Regions from separate parts of the Homo sapiens genome. Here regions 2, 3 and 4 are each linked to region 1. Evidence: fine-mapped QTL for protein levels in blood plasma. Region 1 holds a variant in brackets. A gene starts in each other region. All regions are shown on their forward strands. Region 1 holds the start of DLG3-AS1 (DLG3 antisense RNA 1). Region 2 holds the start of VEGFC (vascular endothelial growth factor C). Region 3 holds the start of PPBP (pro-platelet basic protein). Region 4 holds the start of CPXM1 (carboxypeptidase X, M14 family member 1).

Evidence for each region. A credible set is the group of variants that fine-mapping cannot tell apart. PIP is the chance, under the fine-mapping model, that this variant and not a neighbour inherited with it causes the effect. The UK Biobank Pharma Proteomics Project read protein levels with antibody pairs (Olink). The fine-mapping took linkage between variants from a reference panel, not from the people measured, so its PIPs are less certain.
Region 2: VEGFC starts here. The variant in region 1 is the best candidate, but not a certain one, in a credible set for the plasma level of the VEGFC protein (UK Biobank, PIP 0.77).
Region 3: it holds the start of PPBP, and the variant in region 1 is the best candidate, but not a certain one, in a credible set for the plasma level of the PPBP protein (UK Biobank, PIP 0.52).
Region 4: it holds the start of CPXM1, and the variant in region 1 is the best candidate, but not a certain one, in a credible set for the plasma level of the CPXM1 protein (UK Biobank, PIP 0.56).

What each region holds. Positions count from the first base shown.
Region 1 is chrX:70,454,429-70,459,046 of GRCh38, forward strand. The region is part of intron 9 of DLG3 (discs large MAGUK scaffold protein 3); the gene reads left to right. DLG3-AS1 (DLG3 antisense RNA 1) reads right to left here and starts at 1,566. Exons shown (of 2, transcript NR_109801.1): 1 at 1,517-1,566. RefSeq lists silencers at 350-776, 514-743. The variant CT/C (reference allele first, on the strand shown) is at 2,323.
Region 2 is chr4:176,792,502-176,797,119 of GRCh38, forward strand. It overlaps VEGFC (vascular endothelial growth factor C), which reads right to left and starts at 421. Exons shown (of 7, transcript NM_005429.5): 1 at 1-421.
Region 3 is chr4:73,985,699-73,990,316 of GRCh38, forward strand. PPBP (pro-platelet basic protein) reads right to left here and starts at 2,492. Exons shown (of 3, transcript NM_002704.3): 1 at 2,258-2,492; 2 at 1,819-1,954; 3 at 741-1,676. The coding sequence starts at 2,405. The coding sequence ends at 1,574. RefSeq lists an enhancer at 1-171.
Region 4 is chr20:2,798,856-2,803,473 of GRCh38, forward strand. It overlaps CPXM1 (carboxypeptidase X, M14 family member 1), which reads right to left and starts at 1,772. Exons shown (of 14, transcript NM_019609.5): 1 at 1,546-1,772; 2 at 1-38. The coding sequence starts at 1,717. RefSeq lists enhancers at 1-341, 342-1,329, 1,330-2,315.

The DNA of each region.
Region 1 (4,618 bases):
GAGCAGTAACCTCTTCCTCTCTCCTTTTCCTGCTGGGTAGGGGTTGGTTTGGGCGGCTTGAAAGCATCAATTAAGGCTGTGCTCAGAGCCTGCTGATGTGGGCTGCAGTGCAGGAGAAGGCCAGTAGTGGGCAGCAGCCTACTGGAAGCAGCATCCAAAGATTAGGGCGACTGGAAAAAGGGGAGGGGGCGGAGGGCCCACAGGAGAAGACTGGGAACTGTGTGCCCTGGAAGAGGAGAGCAGCTCTTGGTTAGAAGGACCTCAGGTAGAAGAGATCCGACCTCTTAAGAGATCTTGGGCCAAACCTCTGTGACCCCCACTCCCCTCCCCTCATCAAGATGACCGTGAAAGACCCATAAACGCGCTGAAAAGGTGATACTATGCCCTTGGGATAGGCCAACTGGAGTCGACTCCCTCCCCTCCGGGGGGCCTTCTTTGTATTCTCAGTGAGCAGTCCTTGGCTGGGGCGAATGGGCGGGGCTGGTCATGCAAATAAAGGCGTTTGATTGGCTGGGGCCAACCGAGGCCCAGGTGCCGAGGTGAGCCGCGGGAAGGCGCGCCCTAGCCTGCGGGCCAGTGGAGTGGCCATTGGCCGGCTGAGGGCGGCCTCCAGCCGCATGCCCCGCCCCCTGACCCAGGAGGAGGGCGGCAGGCGCCCCTCCTTCCCCCCATCGCGCGCCTCAGGCGTCTCCTCCTCCTCCCTCCTTCCCCCTCCTCTCTCCTCCCCTCCTCCCGCGCGCCCCGCTTTGTGTCCGTGGTCTCCCGCGCGGGACGGAGGGACTGGCCGGAGCTGGCGCTTTCTCAGCACTAGATCTGGACTCCGACCCGGCGCCAGGTGAGGTGGGGCGGACGGGGGTCAGGCCCCCTCGCAGTCCCCCCTAACCTCTCTACGGCTCTGTTCTCAGCCTCTTTTCCAACACTGCGTGCCCCAATTCTGCCCTCTCCCTCGAATGCCTTCGTTGCGTGCCCCCAGGCTCCTTCTGAGACCCTCCTCAGGGCCCCTCGGAGCGCCGCGCGGGGCTCAGCGCCCCCTCACCCTACACTGGGCCCAGTCTGGCCTTCACCTCTTAGCCATCACCTCTCCCCCACAGCGAGCTGTGCCCCCTTCTCACCCCAGGGCCTCTGTCCTGCCTCAGCCCCCTTCCTGCTGGCTGCTGCGCCCCCAAGCAGCTCCCTAATCCCTTGCCCTAGAGGAATTTTCTAAATCTTCCCCTCCCCCGACACCCATTTCTCCACCCAACCTGTCCACCTCTGAGAACAGCCGCGACCGGCTTGGTATTCTGCCCCCTCCCTTTTGTTTGCAAGGGATTCGTACCATTCCCGACTTCTTTCGCCTCCTCCTCCCCTTTGTCCCCTAGGGCTGCAGCGCCTGGGCTCCTGGGACACCTAGGCCCTGTGGGCCGATTACTAAGGTGGAAGGGACCGACCTCTCCCTGGCAGGTGCTCTATTTCCGCGATGAGAGGGGGAGAGGCTGGGAGCCCCGTCGCCAAGCCGAAAGGGATGGAAAGCGCCTACCTTTGTCCTTTCCGTTCCCCTCCCCCCATGCTCCTTCAGTGCCTCAAGATCCTGAAGGGAAAGAAGAGAGAGCCTGCGACCTTTTCCACGAGGCTCTTCTGATCGAGGACAGAAGTGCAGGGAGGTAACTCACAGGAGAGAGAGCTTGTTGGTCTGAGGTAATGAGAAAGAGGGATGCAAATGGACACTTTGAGTCATTTCTCTCCTTGTTTGGTTTTCAGCTTACTGATCAGGAACGCACCTTAGGGATATTGTTTTTTTATGATTTATGTGTGTGCTGTTCGCTTTCCAGTACAGAGCTAACCGTCTGATTTTTATTAGCAACTAATATTTGTGCATTTCATGCCCACAACTTAGACAACACAGGTTCTGCAAAGGAAATGGTTTTTCTTGCGTATTTGTGTGTGTATGTTGTAGGAGAAATTGATGTTTCTTTCGGTTTTGCTCTCTGATGTTGGGCACATGGAAACAATACTGTGAATTGTGTGTGGTGGGGGTATGCTGGATACTAGTGACTACATATTTCTATGACTTGTTAGGGGAATGCAACTGGCTTGCATAAAAAGCTGCAGGTTGTCCAGGGTAAGGGGATTCCTGCAGTGTTTATTGCTCTCTGAGCATATTTCTGAGAGTTTATAATGTAGGTTGAGGTGCTGTTTTATGCTAGTTCTTTCTACTACTTGCCAAATAAGGCCTTTCTTCTCTTAGGATTTAGGTGAACCACTGTTGTTAAGGCTCTGCCACCCCAATCAATCTTACTTCCTCCTTTGGTTTGGTAAATCCAGCAAGTCCCCAACATGCAAAAG[CT/C]TTTTTTTTTTTCCCCTTTTGAAAACAGATCCCTGGAGACTGGTCCAGAGGGACTGTCAAGCATTCTGTGTTGGGCTCTAAATTTTCTTTGGTAAAGTGCTAGTTTTTAAAAATAAGGACTCCATGTTGATCAATTTATAAACAAGTGTGGTTCTTCAGAGGATTACATCACGGTGGGTATTTACAAAATGAATAATCCAAATACATGTATGTTGGTTGGCAAGAGACCTTGCATGTGATTGGCCAAGTAAGTGTTCATTACTTGAATTTTTTTTTCTTCACGTGAATGTGAGAGCTGGAAAGGATCAAGTGGTCCAATTCTTCATTGTGCATACTGAAACAATGACAAGAGAGCCAAGATATAACTTGTCTAAGAAGGGAAAGTTGCTGAAGGTCAGCATCAGAGGGTCAGCAAATCAGCTTAATCCTGAGGTCTACCAGTTGGGACAGACCATGCTTGTGAACACCTGAGGGACCTAACACCTAGTTAAAAGTGGAGGAGCAACAGGAAGGATACTGGGGAATTAACAGAGGACAGACTAGGAAGAGTGTAAGGGAAAGAAAGATGGATGTGGAGGGGAAGGTTAGAGTGATCTCCATGGTGGCCTCTGAGGCACCTTTGCCAAACCAGTGCAGCCTTTAGCATGAGAGATTTAAAAAATAGGTTTGACTAATAGAACAATCAGAGTAAGACAATTTGTCTCCTTTTTAAAATGGTGTTATTGAGAGGTAAGTCATTTACCATACAGTTTCCTCATTTAGATATATATTTCAGTGACTTTAGGTATAGTTGTGCCTCCATCACCACAGTACGTTTTAGGACTTTTTTTTTTTTTTTGAGACGGAGTCTTGCTCTGTCGCCCAGGCTGGAGTGCAGTGGCACGATCTCGGCTCACTGCAAGCTCTGCCTCCCAAGTTCAAGCGATTCTCCTGCCTCAGCCTCCCCAGTAGCTGGGACTACAGGTGCTCGCCACCACGCCCGGCTAATTTTTTGTATTTTTAGTAGAGACGGGGTTTCACCATGTTAGCCAGGATGGTCTCAATCTCCTGACCTTGTGATCCGCCCGCCTCGGCCTCCCAAAGTGCTGGGATTACAGGAGTGAGCCACTGTGCCCGGCCTAAAACTTTTTGTGTGTGTGTGTGAGACAGTGTCAGGCTCTGTTGCCCAGGCTGGAGTGCAGTAGCACGATCTCGGCTCACTGCAACCTCTGCCCCTCAAGCTCAAGCCATCCTCCCACCTCAGCCTCCTGAGTAGCTGGGACTATAGGTGTGCACCAATACACCTGGCTAATTTTTGTATTTTTTGTAGAGATGGGGTTTCACCATGTTGCCCAGGCTGGTCTTGAACTCCTGGGCTCAAGCATTCTTCCTGCCTTGGCCTCCCAAAGTGCTGGGATTACAGGTGTGAGCCACCATGCCCAGCCTAATTTTTGTATTTTTAGTAGAGATAGGGGTTTGCCATGTTGCCTAGGCTGGTCTTGAACTCCTGAGCTCAAGCAGTCCACCCACCTTGGCCTCTCAAAGTGCTGGGATCACCGCTCCCGGCCTAGAACATTTTCCTTACCCCTCTTCTTTTAATACATAAAAGGTGTGCAAGCATTAGAAAGATGATGGGTTTAGGACAATTGCTTCCTAATGTTCCTCCTCTGGATACTTAGAGGCTGGTGGCAACTTGAGAATGCTCTAACTGTGAGATTCTTTTTTTATTTGTTAATTTATTTGTAGAAACAGGGTCTCACTATATTGCCCAGGCTGGCCTCGAACTCCTGGCCCAAGTGATCCTCCCACCTCGACCTCCCAAAGCACTGGGATTACAGGCGTGAGCCATAATGCCCAGCCAAGATTCTTTCAAATACCTGGTTTGCTTAATGTGGGTTTAACCCATAATGAAGTATAGGAACTGTGTCTTTCTATTTGAACTTTGTATTGTGCCCAGCATGGGTGCTTTACAGGTGTTTTTATGATGAGGCTTTGGAAAATATTAAAATAGAAATAGAAATGCTAAATGATAAGATACCACAGTAAGAGATACTATTTAGTGGTTTCACTCCTGATTGCTCTAAACGGTTATGGACACAGCAATCCTACCTATTAGCTAAAAATAGCATGATGTTCTTGGACATGTATAATACTGCTTAAAATTCAATTGAAAATTTAAACAACTGGCTCTTGGCAAAGGCTCTCTTAAAATCTATTCTAAAATGAAAAATATTTTTCTGTGACTTGTGGAATTGTCCCACCAAGGGAAGGATGGGTTATGTGTTAGAACATTTTGAGATCTCCTACATTTTCCCC
Region 2 (4,618 bases), not on the chromosome of region 1:
CCCAGCCAGTGCCGGGGAAAGGCGGCGGGTGTCAGGTAAAAGCCTCACAGGAAACCGGACATCCGAGCTCCCCGCATTCGGAGCCCGCGAGGTGAAGCGAGGGCGAGGGAGGACGCCGCCGCGGTCCGCGTCGGTGTAGCTTTTTGGAGAGGCGGGGCGGGGGACACCAGAACACCCCGCGATGTTCAGCCCCTCCAAACCCGCCAGAGCCCTCGTCCCCCTCCTCCCTCCCCTTCCCCGAAGTGAGAGGAGCCGGGCCGCGGGCGCTGCGGCGGGGGCGCTGGCGGCGGTGCCGGGGGCGGGAGGAGGGCGGCGGGGCGGCTGGCGGCGGCGGGGCCCGGGAGCGCCGCGGCGCAGGATCCTCCAGAGCGCGCCGGGCTGAGCGGCGGCGGCGGCGGCGGCGGGCGCAGGGGCAGGGCATGACTGACGCGCCCTCTGCCTGCGCTTATGTGAGAGAAAGCGGCCGAGGGAGGGAGCGTGCCGAGCCCGGGCTGCCCTCCCCTCTCACTCTCCCTCGGAAGCCGTCTCCCTGGAGCTCCCCGTTTCCCTCGCCTCCTCCCCGGCGGCCCCACCTCCCCCGGCCCCCCTCTGGATCTCTCCCTCCCCGCCCCTGTCCCCTGCGGGGAGCGGGCGGCCGGAGGGGCAAGTTCAGTCCCGGGGCTGGCGGTTGGCGGGACCGGCTTTAGAGGTGATGCGACCACCCTGGACCACGTGCAGCGGGGAGAAACTGGGCACCGTGGGGTGGAGGGAGCCCCCGCTTTATCCTCGGCCACTCCCGAGTTCTTGTCCTCCCTCCCGCACGCCTGGCCCCCAGAGCCCTGCTCAAAGTTTGGAAATGTCCTGGGGGTTGTAAAAGTTCCAAGAAAAGGTCATCACTATGTCAGAGAACCCTATGGGACCTCGGAGGGGTCCCCTCTCTCCCTTGGTCTGTGTAGTTGAAAGTTGCCTGATGATCCAAGAACCGCAGTTCTCAGGATGCAGTGCAGGCTGTTGGGATGGATGCTAATGATCCCTTTGGAATCCTAAACTTCTGACAGGTGAAGAGAAGGGCCAGAATCTTCGTGGAGAGTAAAGAGACACATTGTCAGCTTCTGCAAGAAGTTGGTTTACTTGAAAAAGGGGGTGATAAAGAGAGATGTGTGTGAGACATATTCCAGAAAGGATGTGTAGCATCCAAAGAAAAGTGACTGCATTTCCCCATTGGAAAAGCACTGGGGTTTCCGTTGGGCTGGTGGCATTGGCTAGCTGCCTCCTTGGGGCAGGGTGAGCAGGTTACAGAGGACCACGCTAAGGGGTTTCAACAGTGTACAGAACATCAAAAGTCTGCCTTTCACTCCCAATCTACTTTTAAGTACACAGATGTTATAGGTCCATAATATCTTACCGGAAGAAGAGACTTTCTTATCTGGTTCAACTCTAGATTTGAAACTCCTCACCCATAATTTACTTGAAGGCTTAAATATCTCAAAGGACAGGGAACCTTCCATTCTGTGTGGCTGTTCACTCCCTTTATTGATGAGCAACACTGCTGAAAAGCATTTCCTTCTATCTCTCTATTGCTTTTGACTCCTGGAGTTTTACACAATAAATCTAATCTCACTTCCACAACTGAGTCCTTCAAATATTTTGAAAATATTTATCATGGTCTCCCTAAGCTAACTTTACTCCTGGCTAAATATCCCTTTTATTCCCCAAGATGACAGTTCCAGTTTCCCCCCTTAACCATACTGTTAGCTTTCCATGTTCATGAAGTATGCGGTTGAGAACATGGCTCGGTACTTAGTGCTGTAATGAGCATGCAGAATGGACAGTATGCCTTTGTTGATACAGCCTTGGATTGAGTTTATTTTCTGGCAGCCAAATCACAGTGTTGACTCACACTACCCTTAAAGTCAACAAAATTCCTCAATAATTTTTCATATGTACTGCTACTTAGTCACGTCTAAATTCCCCTGTATTTGTGGAGTTAAGTTTACTGTATCCAAGATGCTTTTTTATGTATCTTTATGAAATTCCATCCCATCAGACTCGGTCCATGATCTAGCCTGTTGAGATGTTTTGTGATTTGGAACATGGTCAGTGTATCACTCTCTTGCTGTCTTCCTGCTCTATGCATATTTGATCAGCCTGCCATAGTTATCTTCAGACATTGATAGATCTGTGAAAAGGGAACAGCTAAGGGCAGACTGGGGTAGGATTTGAATAGAAGGTGGAGTTTCCATTCAACCATTTGCTATTACAATGATTCTAAACTTTGATTGCACTTGGCATCACAAAAGGAGATTTTGAAAAAACAGATGCTTGAGTACACCTTCTGCCTTTCTGGCTTAACTGGTCTAACTGGAGTAAGGCTTGGACATCAGGATTCTAATAGGCAAACAAAATTGAGAACCACAGGCATTTCCAACACCCACAGGCCTAGCAGCGGGTGAAGACTGGAAAATCAACAAACTCAAAATATATCCAAAATATATTAATATCATATTAACTACTGTTTCATTTAAATACAGCAGTAAGCTGTATTCAAACTTTTTTCTCACAAAAGTGTTATCTTCCTGCTGCTATACTTTGAGTCAGAAAATGCTGGCAAAAAGTTTATTTGAATAAAAAAAAGGTCTCCAAAAACAATCATGCAGTAGTTGTTTGTCTTAAGGTTGGTCGGGCACGGTGGCTCACGCCTGTAATCCCAGCACTTTGGGAGGCCGAGGCGGGTGGATCATGAGGTCAGGAGATCGAGACCATCCTAGCTAACACCGTCCATCTTAGGGAGACCATGATAAATATTTTCAAACGTTGGTGAAACCCCGTCTCTACTTAAAACACACACACACACACACACACACACACACACACACACACACACACACACACACACACACAGAATGTCTTAAGGTAAAAACGAATAGTTGCTCAGGACTTTTTGGTTTTTTTTCTTCCTTACCCCCTGGAAACACTTTTTGCCACTAGCAGATTTTAAAGGTTGAGAAAGTCCTTTTCACTGGTTTGTGAGTTCATCACTAGCTTCATGCAAGACCTATTTTACAACAGGTCTTCTAAATCTGGTTATTCAAAAAGCATTGCTCAGTCAGTGGAGAAAGAGAGGTAGCAGGGCCCCAGCCAGAATAACACCTCTTTTACATATTGAGTTTTTGTTTTCTTTGATGATAGGTTTTGTTCTTTGTGTTTTGTGTCTGTGTGTGTGTGTGTGTGTGTGTGTGTGTGTGTGTTTGTTTGTTTGAGATGGAGTCTCGCTCTGTCTCCCATGCTGGAGTGCAGTTAGAGTACAGTGGCACCATGTCAGCTCACTGCAACCCCTGGGTTCAAGCTATTCTCCTGCCTCAGCCTCCCAAGTAGATATGGGAGATGATAGTTTTGGATGGCAAAATAATGATGATAATATATCCATTGTACATTCTCTAATATCCATTCTGACCATCTACTTTATTTCTCATTTGTTATTCCCTACCTTCTTGCTTTGTTAGTTTTACTTTGTTGCTTCATTTCAAGCTTTTTTAGCTGAATGCTTAGTTCATTTTTCTTCTTTTTAGTTTAAAAATACAAGTTTCGGGCCATGTGTGGTGGCTCACATCTGTAATCCCAGCATTTGGGGAGGCTGAGGAAGGAGGATCACTTGAAGTTACTTTGAGACCAGCCTGGGCAACACAGCAAGACCCCATCTCTGCAATCAATCAGTCGATCAATAAAATACAAGTTTTGTCTAAATTCTGCTTTACTTGTATTTCTCAATTTTGATACGTAGTGCTTCCTTTGGCAAACAGTTGCAAATATATCTTAATTTGTTTATATTTTTAACCCCCAAATTATTTGTGTTTTCTTAGTTTAGGGATATATGATTTTTATCAATTTCTAATTTTATTATATTTAATTTTTGCTATAAATGATGTTGCTTTTAGAAATGCATTCAGGCTTTCTTTGTAGTCCTGGACATGGCTGATCATTGCAACTAATTCTGTGTGTGCTTTATTTTTGTTGGGTATTAATTTTGAGCTTATTATAATGTTCAAATCTTGTTTGGGAATGACGTTAAAATCTCCAGTTATAATTGTTGACATGTTTTTCTGTTTCTGACAGTAGTTCTTCCTGTTATTTTTTAACATAATGGGATACTATATCATTTTGATCTAATTTTCTTCTTGGTAGTATACAATGTCATTTTTTTAACTTCTGATATTTTTATTTGAAGTTCTACTTTTTCTGATATTAAAATCATAGGCTTTAAGAATTGAGATCAGCTGTGAACATGACTTAGGTAAAACTATGAACCAGTTATGTACACATGACTTAGTTGTTTCTTCTAGGAAACATTAGCCTGGAAAAGATAAGACTGCAATCCAGTATTTAAATTCAGTGTTTGCTTCAAGAAATGCTGGCAAAACAATATATCGAAGATAATAATATTCTGACTCTGGTAAACAGCCTGCTTATTAATGACAGTTTTCTTACCCAAACTCTCACTTACAGATGTTAACTGATCCTAAACTACTAGATCATGAACGTTGCCCAATCTTACTCAATTCCCCACTTTGAAAGACCCACCTTAAACTACTCGTGTCCAGACTCCAAAGCTCTACAACTATTCTGCTTCTGACTTACCCAA
Region 3 (4,618 bases), not on the chromosome of region 1:
TATTATAGTATATACAGTATGCTATTTATGTATCAAGTTGTATTACATGTGTGAATAATACTATGTTATATGTAATGTAATCTCTTCATTAGAGAAAGAAGAGTTGAGGAAAGCACTGTGGTGTGGTGGTTAAGAGCACAATTTGAAATTCCCACTCTGTTACCTACTTAGTTATCTGAAAGTGGGCAAGTATTTTAAACTCTATAAACTTGATTTTTCTCTTCTGTAACACTGGGGAGGATAATAATAATCATAAGAAATAATTACTAACATTTATGTGTGGCTTATTTATGACACACATTATTTTAAATACCTTAAATTTATTAACTTTTTTAATCCTTCCATAAACTCTATGAGGGAGGCAATATTATCCCCATTTTAGGGATGAAGAACCTAAGGTACAGAGAAATTAAGCAACATGACCTGATATACACAGCTAACAAGTGGCAGAGCCAGGTTACCTCATTATTCAAACTCCAGAGGATGTTCTTTTAACCAGATCATATCTATCTTTTAAAAAATTGTTTAGTTCATGCATGGAAAACACTTAGTATTCCTGGCATATTAAAATGATTAATAAATTGGAACTGTTATCATACTACATTAAGAATGACACCGATCATCAATTTAGTAACTTTTGTTGTTCAAACTGTGAAATACCAAGTATACAAAAAAGAGAGGAAAATTAAAGCTTTTTTTCCCCAACAATCCTGTTAAAATTAATAATAGATGACAACAAGTCAATAGCAAATTTTTATTTCATGTGAATATTTTTGTAAGAATAGTGTGGGTATAAGTTTTAGGGTTTAAAAAATGAATGAAAGTTCTGTTGATGAAAAAAGTAGAATTTAGAATTAGGAGTCTAGTAAGGTTGAAGTCCTATATTGTACTTATTTATAAGGCTCATTCTAATGATAGAATTATAACTATGTAGATATGTTAATTCATTTTCATCATCTATTTTTGTTCTACTAGTGGCAAATATATTCACTTTAAACCAGCTAACCACAGTTTATAAGATTCATATTCACCAATTTATTATTTTAGTGTTTGATGGCTAAAATAAACATCAGAATAAACTTTCAGGGAGTATTTTAAATAAGACATCCTAGGACTAAGACACTGAGAGACTCCATTAAGTTCCTAAATATATTAACAAAAATGTATTGAGCAAATATTCTCTGTTGGGCTCCATGTAATTCCTATTATCATTGACCATTATGAAATCTAATAATACCCATGAGTATGTCTAATAACCATAAAGTAGACCAGGAAAAATCAACCAAGTTGTGTTAGAATAGAAATTTTTAAAGAAAAAAATGCAAAGTACAGTCCAATGTTTAGGCAAGAATTAGAGGGTTGAAACCAGGCTTATTTATTTTCATCTTCTTTCTGCCATCTTTTAACCAACCTTCTCAGAATAAAATGTGATTTTTGAGACAGAATGAAACACATATCCAAATTTTAATACAGTAAGAATAGGTATCCTGAATAAATGAGAACTCTAGAAAATCAAGGTTTCAAAATTCTACCCTTCCTGGGAGTTAAAGAAGTTTGGCAGAAACAGAACAAATTAATCAGCAGATTCATCACCTGCCAATTTTTTCTGTACAATTTTCTTGATTCTGGGAGCATCTGGGTCCAGGCAGATTTTCCTCCCATCCTTCAGTGTGGCTCTGCAAAAGAGAACAGGGTTATCTGTGGGTGTCCTGATCTGAATATCAGAACTAATCCATGAGACTGGAGGAAACGAGTGCATATGTGGATGGAGGTAGAGGGTTTCTCTGATAAGGCAATAGCACAGAAACAGCAACTTACATCACTTCGACTTGGTTGCAATGGGTTCCTTTCCCGATCACTTCCAAACTTTGGATGTTTTTGGGATGAATTCCAGAGGTTGTCTTTATACACATGCAGCGGAGTTCAGCATACAAGTCACTGTCTAGACTTTCCTCTAGGGTAGAAAATGTGACCTATTGGTGGTCATGAATATTTTCCTCAGGTCTCTTATTTGCAGATTGAGGGCAATTGTACCTCTCTCATAAAGCCATTGTGAATATGATCTGTAACGCTTTAGTAAAGTGCCCAGAAGATTGCCCAGCACACAAGAAGTGAGAAGTGACCCCCCTGTGTGTCTCCTCCAATTGGAGTTATTGGTATAATGGCCCTCTCCAGCCCCAAAGGCACCAAGCTAGTCTTTACCCCAGAGACAGGTGTAGCAGAAGCAGCAACAAGTGCAGAGAAGCAGGGCCTCTACCTTTGCCTTTCGCCAAGTTTCTCTTAGTTTGTCCTTTGGTGGAGGAAGCCAGAGCAGTCAGCAGCAATGACAGAAGCAGCAGCACCTGCAAGGCATGAAGTGGTCTCGCACTGTTACAGGAAGGGGTGGTATCAAGTCTGAGGCTCATGGTGGAGAAGGCTGAGCTAGAGTTGTTTCCAGAACCAGAAGACCTCTGAGTGAGGGTGAGTTGCTGCCTACAAGTCTGCAGATAAGTGGCTTCTCATGCCCTGAAGATGTCATTTATATGCTCTTTCTCAAAGCCAGTAAGAAGGAAGAGGTAGGAAAGGAGGAAGTGAGGGTATGTGGTGATACACACATAAGCATTTGAAGCTGTGCCCAACCCAGAGAAAGACCAGACAGGTCAAATTCCTACTAACTTGCTTAATGTGCATCACTTCACATTCCCACTCTCCCTTTCTCAATACTTATCTTCCTTACACCTGTGTAAGAACTCCGTTCAGGAAGGTAAGAACTAGACTGAAATACTACATGCATTTTCTTTGTATGATTTATAACAATACGCCCTGCCTTTTCTATACTGCAGTTTTTAGGCTTAATAGAAACTTTAGGAGCACCTGAAGGCACAAACATGTGGCCCTTGAAAGAGAAAGTTATCTTTGCTTGCCAAAGAAAGCAAATGTTCTTTTCATGAATGTTGATAAATATTGGGATTGGTTTGGAGCATGTAAGTAAAATAAGAGCCAATTACCGTCAAAGGTTGTCTTTGGATTTTAGCTTATTGGATTCTTTCTGCCTTCAATCTATATTATCTTTTGTAATTTCATCTAGAAACTACAAATGAAACTCATCCTCCTTTATATTACAAAAGAAGCTACTTGTTTCTACCACCTAAGAATACCTAAAAAGTAGGACCCAGCATATTTATTTTTCTTTTTATTTTTAATTTAACAGAAAAATTATATAATTTATTGCAAAAGATTCGTATGCTGCAGATGTCTTTGAAATAAAACACAAATTTCTCTTCATCATTTCTCCACATTCCTACTATTCAGTGGTAAACACTGGTAACAATTTTGCATTAGTTTTCAATTCTGTCTGCACTTATATGCACACATGTATATGTATACAATGAGACACGTTTAAGACATAGAGGTACACATATACATAGAAGTATTGTATATGGATCACTATACAGCTGACTTTTATCCTTCAAAAAATATGTGTTCCTTATCTTTTCAGGTCATCTTAATGTAGTTTTCCCCCATTCTTCTTAATGACCATGTGACGTCCTGTGATAAGAACAATAGTTACTCAACCTTGCCTTGTTGGTGCCCTTCACGGTGTTTCCAATTTTGCACTATTAGAAATTGTGCAAGAAATGTCCTTACCAAGGAAAATATTTGTTCCTGAATTCTCAGACCCAAATTAAAGGTTTTGGTCTGAAATGCTATATCCCTACAAAGATAGAGAGGTGGACCTACACATTACATGTTGGCTTTATGTTATTTTCTGGTTCTCTGTCCCATCTGTAAGACTTCCTTCCTCAATTGAACCATGCACTTTTGTAGGGAGTGGCATGTCCTGTGTTTGTTTGAATGTCTCATGTATCCTATAACATGTAGGATACTTCAATATAAAGTAGGTCTTAAATAATTAATAAATCAATGAATACGTATCACATGAAAGCTTCCCTATCCTTTCTAATCACCTACAATTCCAGGCCAAACTCGACAGGACCCAAAGCAACTATGCTATTTAAATTTATTTGGAAGATTGTCAATAAAGAAGAGGCAGATGTAAGTGGCACTGGCAACAAGTTTTCTTCCTTTTACAACTATGTATAAGTCTCACAGAATATTATTTAAATTTTCCATATTCTTTTCTTACTTTTCATATCCTTAAATTTTAGAAGAAATGCTTAAAATACTAAATGTTCAAAATTACTCTCTATCAAAAAGATGAATATAGTAATTTTTTAAATCATGTTTTTGTTTTCAAGCCAATTTTCCCTATTGTTTAATAGTTATCTACTATGTCTACTCAAGTTCTCAGGTCCTGTTTTTAAATGCGATAACCTACAGACCACATTTGACAGTTTACTTTAGAAGTAAGCAGACTTCCAAATTAACTCGCCCTGGAAAGGTTTCGTGACTTGATGGTGACATTCTATCTCTGAGTAAAGTATTTTATTACGAGTTCCTCAAATGATTGATGTACTAATTACTGTAGAACCTACTGACACTAAATAGGACAATGATTTATTTCTAAGTTTAGCTGAAACAAAAAGTTTTATTGATTGTTTTGTATGTAGACATTTAGCCTGTATGCTGTAATCTGTAGCTAATGATTTTAACTTCGGTATTGTACCCTCCAATGAAA
Region 4 (4,618 bases), not on the chromosome of region 1:
CTTGATGACTCGAATCCGGACATGCTGTTCTGAGGTCCCTTGGGGTCCGAGAGGCACAGCATGGGGGAAAGGAAGAATGGTGAAACCCCGGATGGAAAGGTCTGCCAGCCCAAGAAGACATGTGAGCCCACAGCAGGCCACACCACCAGGATCTAACAGCCTTCACAGGACATCAAAGGCCTGCAATCTGACCCCAACCTGCCTCTCCAGTCACTTCCTTGGCTCCTCCTTCTCCTCCCTGATGTAACTACATGCTTGGCCAGCCTCCCCTGTGAACCTCTAATCCAATGGAGAGCTGCACCCAGCCTCTAGAAACTGTTCGGTTGCTCCAAAGAGCTGAGTCTGGCACTTTACCTCCGGGCCTCTGCACTAGCTATCCCCTCCCCTGTAATGCTACCCCTCGCCTCTGATTTTTTCACCTAATTCCCATTCTTCCTTTGCATCTCAGCCCAGATGCCTTTCCAAGGAGGCTTTCTTAGCTCCAGACTCAGCATCATGCCCCAAAACCCCTGTGCCGCTTCCATTGTTGTGTCTGCTCTCTGGGCTCAGATGGCCTGTCCTGGAATCCATGTCTGCCTGGGTGTCGAGGCTTTCAGGGCTGGGCCTGCCCGCCGGCCCTTCAGCACAAGGCTCTGCCCAGGCAGGTGCTGGGGGTACCCATCGAAGCTCCACAGCTGCCTCCAGAACAGGCTGCCCATTTCCGCATCTGGTGCCCCTGTGCCTTTGCCCGCCGCTTCCTTCTTGGCAGCCCTCTCTCTCTCTCTCTCTCCAGACTCCCCTGACTCGGGGACATCACCCTTCAAGACCCTCCTCCACTTGCCTCCTCTAGAAGCCCCTGAGTGCCCTCCGCTTGCGCTCCTCCTCTCCTATTCCACATCTGGAAAGCTGGGAGGTCGGGCTGCCTTCCTCTCCCGCTCTGCCCCATCCTCCCGGCAGCCTCAGCGAGGGGCTCTCCCTTCTTTCCTTTTGTTCTTTCTCTCCAGCCCTCGCCTTCAAACTCTCTCCTACGCAGTCTTGCTCTGCACCTTGAGAGCTTCTGCCCCTCTGTCTCCCCTCCTGCCAGTTCTGGCCTGTTTTGTCTTTGGTGAAAAGGGAAGGTTTGGGGCTTGGAAGAGGCAGCATCCCACTGGCGCCTGTCCTGGGACTGCTGACTAGGTCTGGCAGGGAACTGGGGCTGCCGAGTCAGCAGCCATTGCTCCCAGCAGGGAGTTGAGGGAGTGTGAGTGTGTATATGTGTGTGTGCACTGTGAGTGTGAGTGTGCGCGCGCGTGCACTGTGTGTGCGCGCACGCGCGTGTGAGTGTGCGTGTGTGTGCATGCGTGTGAATGCGCGCGCGTGTGAGTGCAAGTGTGCGCGTGTGTGAATGTGTGTGAGTGCGCGCGCGTGTGTGCGCGTGAGTGCGAGTGTGCGTGCGGGGTGAGTGTGCATGACTGTGAGTGTGCGTGGGTGTGCGTGTGCCCGCGTGTTAGGGAGGGATCGCCCCACGGGGCAGGAGAGCCGGGCAGTCGGCTTGCGGGGGAGCGGACCGTCGGTCGGGGAACTCACCGTTAGCTGTCTCCGCCGGCGGCTGTGCCGGGCTGCTATGCAGGGCCGGGGTCGAGCCTGGGACCTTGGTGGTCCCGGGCTGCGCGAGGCCCAGCACCGAGTTCCTGGGCGCCCCCAGAGCCGGGCCGACGGCCGGCGCGAAGGCGGCCAGGGCGAGCAGGAGCCCCCACATGGCGGGGATTGAGTGCCAGGGGCGCGCGGGCTACGGCGGGTGGCGGGTCGGTCTCTTCCTGCCGAGTGCGCCGAGCCCCCCGCCCCTTCCTGCCCCCCGCCCCTCCGCAGCCTCCTGCCCGCCCACAGCCCGCTGCCCGCCTCGGACCTCGGAGAGGAGGAGAGGGCCGGGAGGAGCGAGCGGGGCTGACCTCCAAGGGGCCGCCCCAAGTCTCAGGACCGCCGACTCTGCCCTTCCTCTCCGCCGTCTGGGGCCAACCCGCCTCGTTGGCGCGCTGCGCCTTTATAGTCTGCAAAGCCACACTGAAGAGACCAGAGATCACCTGGTGGCCATCAAGTCGACCAACAGGAGGCAAAGCCCCTTATCTGAGCAATTCAGAATGACACTTCCCTATTGTCTAAAGCCACATCTGGTACCAAGCTTCCGTCCCAAGAATTTATAAGTAACTAGAATTTCTGTACGTTTCCGGAATGAGTGCACGTTAAGACCCATTGTGCAAACTTTGCTGACATCAAGGCACCAAAATATCGACAAATGTAACCATTTACCATGACCTAAGTGACTAATGTGGTCCAAATTACCCTGCAGTTCCCCGCAGGGAGCTCAGTCCTCTCTTGCTGAAGCGCCTACTGCGCTCTGCTGCCTCGTCCTTTCCGTCTAATAAAACTTTCCTTTTCAGACCTACACGGTTGTTGATAAGTTCTTTTACCACCCGGGAGCCAACCACTTCCCGGTTCCGGAGCTCTGACACCTCGCCTGGCATCTTGGTGGCCCATACGGGGACTTCACTGGGATTTCCCTCTTCCTTTTTCTCTCTGCTTCCTTCCACGGTCTGGTTCTTTACTCTTTGGGGAACTGCCGGTCCCGGTGGAGGCAGCTCTTCTGTGGGATCCTGAAGCCCTAGAGAAGGGATACCTGGCTGTCCTTGCCCTTAGGGGTGAGGGACTGGCCAGGGCTCTTTTCTGTTTTCGGACTGCCAGTGAACCAGCTTGAGTTCTCGTTGGCAACTGACAGTTTCTGGCCAAGCGCCATCCCCCGGTATTACCCCAAGGCCAAGACAAAAGAGCTATTGCCTGTCAGAGTGGCAGGGCACTTTCATTTTAACACTCCATAAGCCTTGTCCTGGAAGCGGTGGATCTCAATTCTACACAGGGATGCCTCAGGGATCTTGTAGTTCCTTGTCTAAACCCAACTTCGGTTCAATTAATTCAGTTCCATCCAACTCGCCCTTGGATTGCCTCCTTAAAAATGGTCCCATTGGTCTCATTTTGACCCACAAACTCTTAAAAATAAGCATATAAGGCTGAGCACAATGGCTTATGCCTGTAACCCCAGCACTTTGGGAGGCCAAGGCAGGCAGATCACCTGAGGTCCGGAGTTAAAGACCGGGAGTCTACTAAAAATGCAAAACTTGGCCGGGCACAGTGACTCACACCTGTAATCCTAGCACTTTGGGAGGCCGAGGCGAGTGGATCACCTGAGGTCAGGAGTTCGAGATCAGCCTGGCCAACATGGCGAAACCCTGTCTCTACTAAAAATACAAAAAAAAAAAAAAAATCAGCCAGGGGGCTAATTATATGTGGCGGGCACATATAATCCCAGCTACTAGGGAGGCTGAGGCAGGAGAATCACTTGTACCCCGGGGGCGGAGGTTGCAGTGGGCCAAGATGGCGCCACAGCACTCCAGCCTGGGCGACACAGCAAGACTCTGTCTCAAAAAATACAAATAAAAAATAAATAAGAGTTTAAAAAGCATATCCTTTTTTCTAATATTGCTTGGGTTCAATACAAGCTCCCTAATCAATCAATTTGGCCAATTAATGAAACTTGGGATTGCAATGCTACTTTACAACTTAACTGATTTTTTGCCGGAACCTTGGAAAGGATTCAGAAGTCCCATATGTTCAGGTCTTTTTTGCTTTATCCCCAAATCCAAACCCAAAATTACATACAAATTGTCATGTATGCTTCCAAGGAACGTCCTCCCTTCCCGGTTCTGATGTCTTAGATGATCCTTCCTTTTGCCTATTACATCCTCCTCAACCTGCTCACTCTTCACCTACACCCTCTCCATCTGCTCCATTCCCTAGTCAATCTCCCACCCACATACCCAAATACTTTCTCCCCTTCACATACTCTCAGGGGAGTCACATATGCTACTAGTACAGAGTCCTCAGAAAAATCCCCAAAATATTTTGCCTCTCCCTAAGGTGGCTAATGAAGATTTGGGAACAAGCCAAGTTCATGTCCCTTTTCTGATCATGTCTGATCTTTTGCAAATTCAATCCAAGTTGGGTTCATTTAGTCAGGATCCCTCTAAGTTCATTCAAGAATTTCAGACTTTAACTGTTGCCTTTGATTTAACCTGGCAAGATGTATTTGTGGTATTAACTACCTGCTGTTCCCACACACAAAAAATCACACGTGTGATCTTCAGCATGGGCAGATGAAGCTCATGCTCCCAGTCCTAATAACAGAGCTGGGCAGAAGCTGTCCCCAACATAGAACCTATTGGCAATACCAGGCCACCAATTCTGGCCCAAACAGAGGTAAGGGCAGACAGGATCATATGGTAACTTCTCTGTTGGAGGGAATGAAAAATATATAATAAAACCTGTTAATTTTTCTAAATTATAAGAAATAATAGCTGGGCGCGGTGGCTCACACCTGTAATCCCAGCACTTTGGGAGGCTGAGGCGAGCGGGTCACCTGAGGTTTGAGACCAGCCTAGCCAACACGGAGAAACCCCATCTCTACTAAAAATACAAAATGAGCTGGGCATGGTGGTGCATGCCTGTAATCCCAGTTACTCCAGAGGCTGAGGCAGGAGAATCGTTTGAACCTTGGAGGCGGAAGTTGTGGTGAGCTGAGATTGCGCCACTGCACTCCAGCCTGGGCAAC